Homo sapiens: one gene and its partners. The protein of the gene in region 4 purifies or fractionates together with the protein of the main gene of each other region. This does not show direct contact. Each region holds a gene or a part of one and is shown on either strand. Other genes may lie near its edges. The genes, in order: MGA, ARID4B, TFDP1 and MXD1.

What was found.
Region 1: the proteins of MXD1 (region 4) and MGA purify together in Homo sapiens (affinity purification with mass spectrometry, with the first as the bait; one large-scale study listed by BioGRID). This does not show direct contact.
Region 2: the proteins of MXD1 (region 4) and ARID4B purify together in Homo sapiens (affinity purification with mass spectrometry; 3 studies listed by BioGRID and IntAct, with this or other methods). This does not show direct contact.
Region 3: the proteins of MXD1 (region 4) and TFDP1 purify together in Homo sapiens (affinity purification with mass spectrometry, with the first as the bait; one large-scale study listed by BioGRID). This does not show direct contact.

Annotation. Positions count from the first base shown.
Region 1 is NC_000015.10:41,747,405-41,750,974, forward strand, and holds part of MGA (MAX gene-associated protein), read left to right. Parts: intron 1-1,232; coding exon 1,233-1,523; intron 1,524-1,706; coding exon 1,707-3,211; coding exon of another isoform or gene 3,212-3,214; intron 3,215-3,570. UniProt on the Homo sapiens protein: Functions as a dual-specificity transcription factor, regulating the expression of both MAX-network and T-box family target genes. Functions as a repressor or an activator.
Region 2 is NC_000001.11:235,178,143-235,181,712, forward strand, and holds part of ARID4B (AT-rich interactive domain-containing protein 4B), read right to left. Parts: coding exon 3,443-3,570; intron 3,043-3,442; coding exon of another isoform or gene 2,951-3,042; exon of another isoform or gene 2,929-2,950; intron 1-2,928. UniProt on the Homo sapiens protein: Acts as a transcriptional repressor. May function in the assembly and/or enzymatic activity of the Sin3A corepressor complex or in mediating interactions between the complex and other regulatory complexes.
Region 3 is NC_000013.11:113,639,330-113,642,010, reverse strand, and holds the end of TFDP1 (transcription factor Dp-1), read right to left. Parts: intron 1,892-2,681; coding exon 1,744-1,891; 3' UTR 538-1,743; downstream 1-537. UniProt on the Homo sapiens protein: Can stimulate E2F-dependent transcription.
Region 4 is NC_000002.12:69,941,209-69,943,447, reverse strand, and holds the end of MXD1 (max dimerization protein 1), read right to left. Parts: 3' UTR 503-2,239; downstream 1-502. UniProt on the Homo sapiens protein: Component of a transcriptional repressor complex together with MAX. In complex with MAX binds to the core DNA sequence 5'-CAC[GA]TG-3'. Antagonizes MYC transcriptional activity by competing with MYC for MAX binding.

The DNA of each region.
Region 1 (3,570 bases), on a different chromosome or scaffold from region 4:
AGTTAAATTGTGCAGAATCTGGATTTTATTTAAAAACATAAGAGGCCAGGCACATTGGCTCATACCTATAATCCCAACATTTTAGGAGGCCAAGGCAGGAGGATTGCTTGAGCCCCAGGGGTTCCAGACCAGCCTGGGCAACATAGCAAACTCCATCTCCACAAAAAAAAAAAAAAGCGTGCACCTGTGGTCCCAGCTACTTGGGAGGCTGAGCCTGGGAGTTCGAGGTGGCAGTGAGCTGTGATCCCACCACTGCACTCTAGCCTGGGTGACAGAGTGCGATGCTGTCTCAAAAGAATGAAGTTGAAGCATAATTTTATCATGAATGATCCCTTTAACAGGAATCCAGATTTAGAGAGATAACCATGTTTTTCTTTAGGCAAAAGTATTATCTCTTTAAATGTGCCTCTTGACAGTTGATACTCTATTTTTTACCATTCTAAATGTAAAGCTCCATAATGTCTGGCTGTTCTCAGCCATAAATAGTGTATTATGAAACTACAGAATTTCAGCAACTTTATAATCCAAATTAGACGTTATTTGAAGCAAGGTCAGATTCTGTGCCTTAATGACTGGGCATGGTGGCTCATGGCTGCAGTCCCAGCACTTTGGAAGGCCGAGATGGCAGGATCACTTGAGGCCAGGAGTTTGAGACTAGCTTGAGCAACAAAGCAAGACCCTGTCTCTGCAAAGAATAACATAATTAGCCAGGTGTAGTGACACATCCCTGTAGTCCCAGTTACTTGGAAGGCTGAGGCAGGAGGATCTCTTGAACCAAGGAGTTTGAGACTGCAGTGAGCTATGATTGAGCTACTGCACTGAAGGTGACAAGTGCAACCCTGCCTCTTTAAAAAAAAAAAAATATAGACTGGGCGCGGTGGCTCACGCCTGTAATCTCAGCACTTTGGGAGGCCGAGAACGGCAGATCACTTGAGGTCAGGGGTTTGAGACCAGCCTCACCAACATGGTGAAACCCTGTCTCTACCCAAAAATACAGAAATAAGCCAGGTGTGCTGGTGCACACCTGTAGTCGCAGCTACTCGGTATGCTGAAGTGGAAGAATCACTTGAACTAGGGAGGTGCGGAGGTTGTAGTCAGTCGAGGTTGTGTCATTGCACTCCAGCCTGAGCAACAAAGCAAGACTGTGTCTTAAAAAATATTATGAATACTTTTTTTTCCTACGTGTGTTAAAGGGGAATTTGGGTACCATGTTTCCATTTCCTGTTTTTCAGAAAATGCTGCTCAAATTCCAGTGGCTACTCCACAGGTCTCTCCTAACACAGTGAAACGTGCTGGACCTCGATTGTTGTTGATTCCAGTGCAGCAGGGTTCTCCTACTCTTAGACCTGTCTCAAACACACAACTTCAGGGACATCGGATGGTCTTGCAGCCTGTTAGGAGTCCAAGTGGAATGAACTTATTCAGGCACCCTAATGGGCAGATTGTCCAGCTTCTACCTTTGCATCAGCTTCGAGGCTCTAATACCCAGCCCAACTTACAGCCTGTCATGTTTCGGAACCCAGGTATAAAGTTCTTTTTTATGAACTTTTCTTTTGTTGAATCACTTGGCCATATGGTATGTTAATACACCAAGATTGTTTTTCTTCATCTCTTAAGAGTTACTTTTCCAAAAAGAAAAGCAAACATTGGAAGTCTTGATATGGGCAGTCATGATTTAAAAATTTCTCTCTTATTTTTTAAACCAGGGTCTGTGATGGGAATCCGGTTACCTGCTCCTTCCAAACCCTCTGAGACTCCGCCATCTTCCACTTCGTCCTCTGCTTTCTCTGTCATGAATCCTGTAATTCAAGCTGTTGGGTCTTCTTCAGCAGTGAATGTTATCACTCAGGCACCATCATTGCTTTCCTCTGGAGCTAGTTTTGTGTCTCAGGCTGGTACATTGACCCTGAGGATTTCTCCTCCTGAACCACAAAGCTTTGCAAGTAAAACAGGCTCTGAAACCAAAATAACTTATAGCTCAGGAGGACAGCCTGTTGGTACAGCCAGTCTTATTCCTCTCCAGTCTGGTAGTTTTGCCTTGTTACAGCTCCCAGGACAAAAGCCTGTTCCTAGCTCCATTCTTCAGCATGTTGCTTCCCTTCAGATGAAGAGAGAATCTCAGAATCCAGACCAGAAAGATGAAACAAACTCAATAAAAAGAGAGCAAGAAACGAAGAAGGTTCTACAGTCAGAAGGAGAGGCTGTAGACCCTGAGGCTAATGTAATAAAACAAAACTCAGGAGCTGCTACCTCAGAAGAAACTCTGAATGATTCCTTGGAAGATAGGGGTGATCATTTGGATGAAGAATGCCTTCCAGAAGAAGGTTGTGCAACTGTCAAACCATCTGAGCATTCCTGTATCACTGGGTCACATACAGATCAAGATTATAAAGATGTTAATGAAGAATATGGGGCTAGGAATCGTAAGAGTTCCAAAGAAAAAGTGGCTGTTCTGGAAGTTAGGACCATTTCTGAAAAAGCCAGTAATAAGACAGTCCAAAATTTAAGTAAAGTACAGCATCAAAAACTTGGTGATGTGAAGGTGGAACAGCAGAAAGGATTTGACAATCCAGAAGAAAACTCAAGTGAATTTCCAGTCACCTTTAAGGAAGAAAGTAAATTTGAATTGTCAGGAAGCAAAGTTATGGAGCAGCAATCTAATCTACAGCCAGAGGCCAAAGAGAAGGAATGTGGAGACTCTCTGGAGAAAGACAGGGAAAGATGGAGAAAACATCTGAAGGGCCCCTTAACCAGGAAATGTGTTGGAGCTTCACAGGAATGTAAGAAAGAGGCAGACGAGCAGTTAATTAAAGAAACAAAGACATGTCAGGAAAATTCAGATGTGTTTCAGCAAGAACAAGGCATCTCTGACTTACTTGGAAAAAGTGGAATTACTGAAGATGCCAGAGTTTTGAAAACTGAATGTGATTCTTGGAGTAGGATTTCTAATCCTTCAGCCTTCTCCATTGTTCCTAGGAGAGCTGCAAAAAGCAGCAGAGGGAATGGACATTTTCAGGGTCACTTACTGCTACCTGGAGAACAGATACAACCAAAGCAAGAGAAGAAGGGTGGGAGAAGCAGTGCTGACTTCACTGTTTTGGATTTGGAAGAAGATGATGAAGATGATAATGAGAAAACTGATGATTCTATTGATGAAATTGTGGATGTTGTTTCTGACTACCAGAGTGAGGAGGTTGATGATGTAGAAAAGGTGGTGAGCCCATTTTTGTTGTGACTGAAACCTAAAGGATTTAAATGATTTATTAAAGACAGAAGCTTTTTCAGAAGAGCACTAAGGCATAATACATTTAATTGGATGCCTAGGTTTAAGATTATGACTTAAATGGCTTAGTAGTTCTTTAGGCTGTGTCAATCAAGCATCATTTATTGAGCTTTTATTCTTTGAGACTTGTCTGGTTTTATGGGAAGGCTGGCTTAAATATTTGGGGGATAGGTGCTTGAGAGTCCCTACCGAGTTAGATTTTTAAAATCCCGAAACCACTACTCCCATTTGACCTCAGTCAATTTCTATGACGTTTTCTATGTGAGGTGGTTGTAGCTTCTCTGGTA
Region 2 (3,570 bases), on a different chromosome or scaffold from region 4:
CATCCTTCTTTAAAAAAATCAGATATAAACTGAAAATAGTCCTTAATATAGTACTGGGAGTTTATAAGCCTAGTAATTAAAAGTATATGCTGAAAATAAAAACTGAAATTTGTTAAGATTCAATAAAACCAAAATATTAAGACTTAATCACAGGTTAAAATGTTAATGACATTATGTCTTATAATCATATTAATATAATTTTTAAATGATATAAATGAGGTAAATTTTAGCAGTAATTCATACTTGGTTCTTTTTTACCAATTTATGTCAAGAATAACTAAGCTCCCAGGGCACTGTTTGGTTAACATGCATACCATTTACAAATCCAACATAGTAGTTCTAAAAAACGTCTCATCTTCTTGGTGGGAAATTATTGCAAAACATTACAAATAAATGTCTCCCTTTTCTTCAAGGACTAGCCCAAGTCCTACATCTTCACTAAGATGTTCCAGGCTTCACTGATCAATCACTACTCTGAACTGTAGCATTTTTCTATACTACTCATTTGGTCCTTAACATCTGCTATATTTCTGTCTAATTCATATATGTTATCTCTCAGACTATATAAAGTAAGATTTTTTCTCCAGAGACTAATAAAGTACTATCTCCATTCAGTTCCAATGTCAGACACCAAATCAACCTTCTGTGTATAAAACCTAACTTCCTTGATCAAAAACAGGACAAGTAATTAACTGTCTGCAACTTCCTAGCTTTTTTTTAATGGGTCATATAATCTTACTTACAACTTTTCCTAATACCTTTTTAAATTTTTAATATTTCTTTTTTATTTTTTACACCAAGTATGTGACCCACCTAATGTCATTTTAATATCACAATTTAAGTGAAACATAAAGGAGACGTAGATATTGACCATACTGAAGCACAGAACCATAATTGTCAGGTTTCTCTCCAAGAGAGTTTAATTCTAAAGTGTTCAGATACTAAGAAATAAAAACCTTCAATGTAGAGTAAATTAAGAGGAAAAAACTACATCTAAATAGTAAAACTTAAATTTTAACTTGTGATATAGTGGGGAGTCTCCAATATTCATAGTAAGTAAATTTATTAAAATGTGGCCATGTGAAACAGGTGCTTAAGAACCTATTTCTGGCTGGGCGCGGTGGCTCATGCCTGTAATTCCAGCACTTTGGGAGGCCAAGGTAGGTGGATTACCTGAGGTCAGGAGTTCGTAGACCAGCCTGGCCAACATGGCGAAACCCCATCTCTACTAAACAAAATACAAAAATTAGCCGGGCGTTAATCCCAGATACTCAGCAGGCTGAGGCAGGAGAATCTCTTGAACCTGAGAGGTGGAGGTTGCAGTGAACCAAGATTGCACCACTGCACTCCAGCCTGGGCAACAAGAGCAAAACTCTATGTCTCAAAAAAAAAAAAAAAAAAAAAAAAAAAACCCAACAAAAAGAAAAACACCAATTATTTCTAAAGAGATATAAATTACCCTAAATTTAGGAGTAGCTTTCAAATTCCACAATTATTAACCTAGTCAAGATTAAGATTCAAAAGGGCAGTGTTGACTTAGTCTATTAGCAGAGAAGATATCCTCTTTTTTTTTGTTGTTAATTTTAATCTTTTGTAAGATATTACGAACATAATAAGGATACAACCTCTTAAAAACTACAACAATAGGCTAGGCACGGTGGCTCATGCCTGTAATCCTAGCACTTTGGGAGGCCAAGGCAGGCAGATCATGAGGTCAAGAGATAGAGACCATCCTGGCTAACATGGCGAAATGCCATCTCTACTAAAAATACAAAAAATTAGCTGGGCATGGTGGCACACGCCTGTAGTCCCAGCTACTCAGCAGGCTGAGGCAGGGGAATCACTTGAACCCAGGAGACGGAGGTTGCAGTGAGCCCAGATCACACCACTGCACTCCAGCCTGGGCAACAGAGCGAGACTCCATCTCAAAAAAAAAACCCCCAAGAAAACCTATAACAATAAAACCTGTTTTTTTCTTTCTTTTCTTGTTTTTTCTTTTTTTTTTTTTTTTTTTTTTGAGACAGGGTCTTGTTTTATCACCCAGGCTGGAGTGCAGTGGCGTGATCTTGGCTCACTGCAGCCTTTCCGGGATCAAGTGATTCTCCCTCATCAGCCCCCAAGGTAGCTGGGACTACAGGCATGCGCCACCACAGCTGGCTGACGTTTGTATTTTTGGTAGAGATGGGGTTTTGCCATGTTGTCCAGGCTGGTCTTGAACTCCTGGACTCAAGCGATCCACCGCCTTGACCTCCCAGACCTCCCAAATTGCTGGGATTACAGGTGTGAGTGACCACACCTGGCCAGTAAAATCTTACTGTTGAAAGCCTAATATTCTGAAATAAAGGATTCTTTCATTTTGAAGATTAGTCATGCCTGGATAGTTCAGTTGCATGAGATAGTATGGCACAGATAAAATCATAGTAGTTATACTTGTAAATGTGAAAAAAAGCAAAGAACATTTCAATTTAATTGCAAGTATTTTTTTAATTTATTTTAAAACAGAAATGTTTTAAGTCAAGATTCCTGAGAAAACATAGAATTAACTAATTTGATCTAGACCATATCTCTTTAAGCTTTGCTGAAAACCTAAAGCTAGCATTCTAAAATCTTTTACGGTATATAAAAAACATACTCCAGTGCTCTGTCTTTACGATGGAAAAGTGTGTTCCAAAGCCAGGTGTCAGCCTAGAGTATACTGATTTAAAGATACCTGAATGAAGTGGTTTATAAGAAAAATGATGACAGAAGTATGGCTATGGCACCATCGAAAGGCACTAATACTTTGGGAAGGTACCGATTTGAATTTCCACTTTTAACAATTTCACGGAAAATCAAAAAAGTATTACTGTAGGTTATTAACGTACACATTGGTCCTTCAATTTGGAAGCTATGCATCTAAGAAAGCATCAAATTCCTTTACAAACTCACACAAGTTAGTCAGGCTTGAAAATCAGTTTGACACGGTTGTCTGAGGAAAGCAGTGCCTGGACAGTTGGTTGCTCCAAACCCCTACATACAGTATTTGGTTAAGGGTGGAGGGGTCTGTCAATAAATCAAAATGTTCGTGAGAAACTGCACATTACAATTGCAAAAACAATGTTACAGAAATAGATTTAAGCTGCTCATGCCATATAGTCAACCACTGCATATAATGAATTCTCAAACAGGTTTGGATTTGGGCCTGGGTGCAATTTCTAGCATGTGTTCTGGTCCACAATAAAATGCCATGGATGGCTCAAGCAAAGCACATTAAAGCCTTCTCAAGCTTTTAAATGCATTCCACTATTCATTTTCAAATTACCTTTAAAATTTCCATTTTTACCATGTTCACACAAATATGACACTTAATCGCCTCAGGTTATAACAAGAGATACTGTGAAATCATTGAAACTTTAAGAGGGGAAACCCTAAAATAAGTCAACATACACATTTTCCTTCTCACCTTTTTCAGGATGTTCTGGTTCTGGCTGATTACTACTGCTTGAGCTCACACTGGCATCAAAACCTGCTGGCGAGCTATTCCCTTCAGACTGGAGGTCTTGGAGCTCCCCAGCAACACTATCCACCTCA
Region 3 (2,681 bases), on a different chromosome or scaffold from region 4:
AGCTGAAATGGACCAAAATTAACTGCAATGTGCTGACCAAGCCTCCCTTGAAAGCTTTAAGCCTTCAGTAGATTCCGTAGTTACAGAACAGCTGCATCAGGCAGATCCTGCCCGCGAGGTAGACATCTACCTGGGCAGCCAGATTCCTGGTGCTCCCTATTCCACCATCTTCCCAGAATCCTCTCAATCTTATTCTTGTTCTCAAAGTCAAACTTTTAAATTTTGTCTCAATTTTCATTGTGAAAAAAGGCCAAGGAACTTGGCTTATCTTTCTCTGCACCACAGGCACCGAAAAGGAAGGTGCCTCTTTGCCCTGTGTCCACCAAGACCTCCACCCTTGGCCACCTTCCACCTTTTCAGGGTGGGCTCCCGGAGGATGTGCCTCAGACAACATGTGGTGGTGGGGTTTGCACCCACAGGGACCACCCGGGCCCACCGCGTCTGGGCCTAACAACCTACTTTCTCACTCAAGTATAAAGTAAAACCAACAAGACAGACAAATTTCTAGATAATAATCCTGAATTAGAGAAACACAGCTTGTTTAAAATGCCCATGCGCGTTTTATTAATAAAAACTAACAGTGCCAAGTTAAACAAGTCAAACAATTAAAGTCTCTTTATATACCATAAAATATTACAGAAAAGTTTATTTGTGTTTCAATAAAAAGACTATCGTTTTAGAACAGGCAGCTAATAGCAACTGTGCAGTTAATGGGTTTTGTGAATAAATTTTAAAAGAGACTACTGCCTGTCCTTAAATTCCTTTTTCTTTTTATAAAAAAAGAACTATTAAAAATGATTGACAAATTTTGAGTTAAAAAATTGTTAAAACATTCTCTATATTTAATTTCAATTTTATAATAGATTACAGGAAGATGCTTATGAAACAAATACATTTGTTTCAGTACATGTCTTTAAATGATAGACTTATAAGTATGTAAACAACTATATAATAAAAGGTTTCCAAACGCTGCCTGTAAGAAATCAGGCAAATTTTACCATAAGCAATAAACCATTCCAAGCCTTCCAGACAGTCTCCATAGCCGCACCAGCATGGCAATAAGCTTTAACCAAACGAAAACAAACAAACAAAAGCACTTCGCAATTTGTTGCTGCAAAACAGGGAGAGAAAAGAGTGTACAAACTTGATGGAATCACAACAGTCAATATAATTTAAGGGACAATAAAGTCAATAAGGTTGATGGTGTTTATTGTTTAAAAAGTTGAATTCTGCTGTTTGCTTGGGGCTGTTTAGAAAGTTGCATTCTGCTGTTTGCTTGGACACCGTACCACTGAACAAACTCCACAGAGTCTTGCTATCCGCCAGCAGGGGTGCCGTCCAAACTCACGGCAAATAAGCGGCATCAGGGGCTCACCATCCACAACAGGAGGTGTTTTATTTTCATGGATGTGGTTGAAATACAATTTCTTCAGCAAACTCAGCAAAAACTTTTCAGGGGCAAAAATGAACTCTGCACTTAAAGAAAAATAGCAAATGAAAACACAAAATCCTAACAAGTAAATAAACGCTCTGCATCAGCACACTGGTATCAAAACACACATCCACAGCACGTCCTAATCCTACGGGAAACAATCCTTGCTTATCAGAGGTGCATATCTAAATTCAATAGCTTACCAATATCTTCTTGGGAGTAGGCCAAAAGGAAACAGAAAACCCACATTAAAAAAAAAGTTTCTTTTCGCTAAACGTTTTCCTGAAGCCGAATCTGAAGTGGGGAGGACGTCAGTCGTCCTCGTCATTCTCGTTGAAGTCATCGTCCTCCTCGTCGTCCTCCCCGACGTAGGACACCGGAGTCTCCACCCTGGAGCCGCTGTACTGAGACCCATTGGAGCTTGTGGCCAGCATCCCATCTGCACCGTTGGTCAGGTCACTGCAAGGCAGGAGGCGGATGGCGCCGTCAGTGCAGGCGGCCCACCCAGCCTCCCCCCGCCTCAGGGCTTGTGGTCAAATGACAGGCTGTGCCCCACAGGTGTGGGTTTTGTCAGTCACACAAACAGAACGGGGAGGCTGAGTGTCTGCACTACAGCACGCCAACGCTCTGGCACTTACTCCATCTCTGTCTGGTTCTCTTCTGGCCCTGTCTCCTGGAACCCATAACGACAGAAACAGGAGGCTGAGCAGAGCCACACGCTGCCTCTCCCTCACTCATCATTCCATCAGGAGCAGTGCCCCAGAGGGAACAAACTGTAAAACCATTAGATCCCTCCCTCCGGGACTTTCACTCATAACCAGCAACAGGAAAAAAGAGAGCCCGGGGCAGGACAGGATGGAGTCCAGAGCGTGGGTCGAATCTGGCAGCGGGGACTGAGAACCCAGAGGGCTGGCAGCACCACAAAAACCTACCACCAACCAGAGCTCACTACGTTCCTAATGTTTAAAGATGTTTTCAATTAACATAAAACCATATGTACATATTTTAATACATTTTAATGGTATTTATTAACACTACAATAAAAATGTGTTAATGTGCCTTTTGATGAAGTAATTCTGTATCTTGGAAACAAGTCAGAAATGGCGAGAAATTCAGCTGTAAAGCTGCTCACTGCAGTTTTTATTCTAACTGGGAACTACCTAGATGTCCTTTCATGAGGTACTTGTATAAAATGTCTCATCATGCCACTATGAAAATCGGTATTTCGTAAGAAATGGTAATAGCTTTG
Region 4 (2,239 bases):
CAGCAATGCTCCTTTCCCAGCAAACACTCACTCCTCCTCCAGGGCCCAGCTCGAATGCACCACCTCTAACTTCTCATGGAGCTTTCCCACACAACTTTATTCCACAACTAATTACACTGCATTAAATTGTGTGCATATCTTTCCCAGCAGGCTACAGGCTGCTCAAAAGATGCAGAAGTCTTGGCAGTGCTTACAGCCTGCATCATTAGAGGCACCCAAAACAAAGGGCAAGTCAGCCAAGAATGAGTCAACGAGCAGGTGAAACCAGTAGGTGGGATGATGGGGCAGTGGAGAGGGTGGGACTGTGGCTAATTCTGATCAACAAATGGGCTCAACTGGAGCCACACAATCTCAATCCTCATCACAGGCTCCAAGGGCTGAAAACTTTTAGCTAGTGAAGTTTCCCTTAAATTAAAAGAAAAAAAGAAATCTGATGAACGCAGTTCTGCAAGGACAACCACGAAAGGGTAAATTGTGATACAAAACATCAGAAAGACCAAAATTTCTTTAATAATGAAATAATTTATTATTTGTTAACAGTTGAACAATACAGTTTACATATACACAGCAAAGATTCTCTAAAACATGTAGTAGTTTCTAAAAATGCATGTGCTAACTGTAGTAAAAAGCACCATTCTCTATGATCTTGACACAGGATTTACATTGGCGTCATATTTACATAAAGAAACATCTGGAAACAGAATAGCATACCCTTTCATCTGCTGCTCCCCTGTCAGGCTGTGTGTAGCATTAGGAAGATGGCCCCCCAAAAATGATGGTAACAGCAATATTCCAAGAGCACCAATTCTAGGGATGGGGTAAAGGCAAGTTTGGTTGTCAGGTAAAAGCTAAAATGAAGAATGCTCCCTCAACTTGCCACCCCACAGAGAGAAGAAATCAAAATGTAAAAATCTGGATAAATCTTAACATTGGGTGCCTTATGAATTCTCACTTTATGATTTTGAGAGAAGGTCAAATACTCAATCTCTTCAGCCATTCAATAGCTGAATCTAGCAGTGCCTGTCAATTTCTTCTTTCAGAAGAATCTGAGAAAATCATCCATGTAATATTGATAATGAAAAAAACCATGATAAATCACCTATTGCACACCCCACCCTCTAACCCAGTTATCTTTGAAAGCAAAGCATCCTACAGTCTATAGAGATCAGAGGATGTAGAATGAGAAACCACCTCATCGAAAAGGGTCTTTGGGTTGTCTTCTACCAGGAAGAGTTTTTAAATAGGAGTAGCCAGCTACTAGACACGCTAAACACACTGCATCAGAGTCAAACATAGAAAAAGAATAGATTGACATGCAAGAAATTGCGTTTAGCCTTTTACTACCTGATGTTCAACACTCAGGGAAGGCAAAGGGGGACAGACAAACTTGGGGAAACAAAGAAGAAACAGAAAAGACCAGGATGTTAAAGTCTCCTGTGTGGTTCATGAAAAAATAGAAAATAAAAAAAGACCAAGACTTGGGGGAAGAAATAGACTGTAAAGGACAATGATAGTGGTATTCTCGCCAATACAGTATGGTATAAAAACCTAAATAATAATATGTGTGTGTGTGTGTGTGTGTGTATATATAGATACTTTTCAAAAATAAGTTCTCTCTTGAAAGGATGGGGAAGAGGCAAGAAGAAATAAGCCCACAAAATCTATTCTCAAGCTCCAAGATATTGCTAGATGGTTATTTTGAGCATCACAATCCTACCTAGTTTACACTTTTTTCTTATCCCCCAGGATTTGCTCTTGGCCGCTTTGGGGATGCAGAAGAGAGGCCCATAGGAAACTCAGGTTGAGGCCCCTTTGTTGCTTTTGAAAAAGTAGAGGTTAAAGGAAAATGCCCACCTTAAAAAATAAAAACAAAACAAAACACTCAAGTGGCCAACTGCAGGACGAGGGCCTACTTAATGTTCAGTTCTGAATCAACACTGAAATTATTTTCATCTTAGGTTGACAGGGAAAATCTAGGTCCTGCCTAAAAATGTGATGCATTTTGAATCACTAAACTAGCATTAGGTGTGTGACTACAGAAAGGAGCCAGCAGTTGCTATCAGCACCTTGAAGAATTCAAGATCTCTGCTTAGCAAAAGAAAACCAAAATACAGACGACCTGGGTGCTCGGCCCACCATTCAAAGCCAACAGGGGATGGAAAGCTATGTTTTCAGGATGTTACAGAAGCACACATATATATTTTCCCACTGCATGAAATTAAATTAGACTGCGTACTCT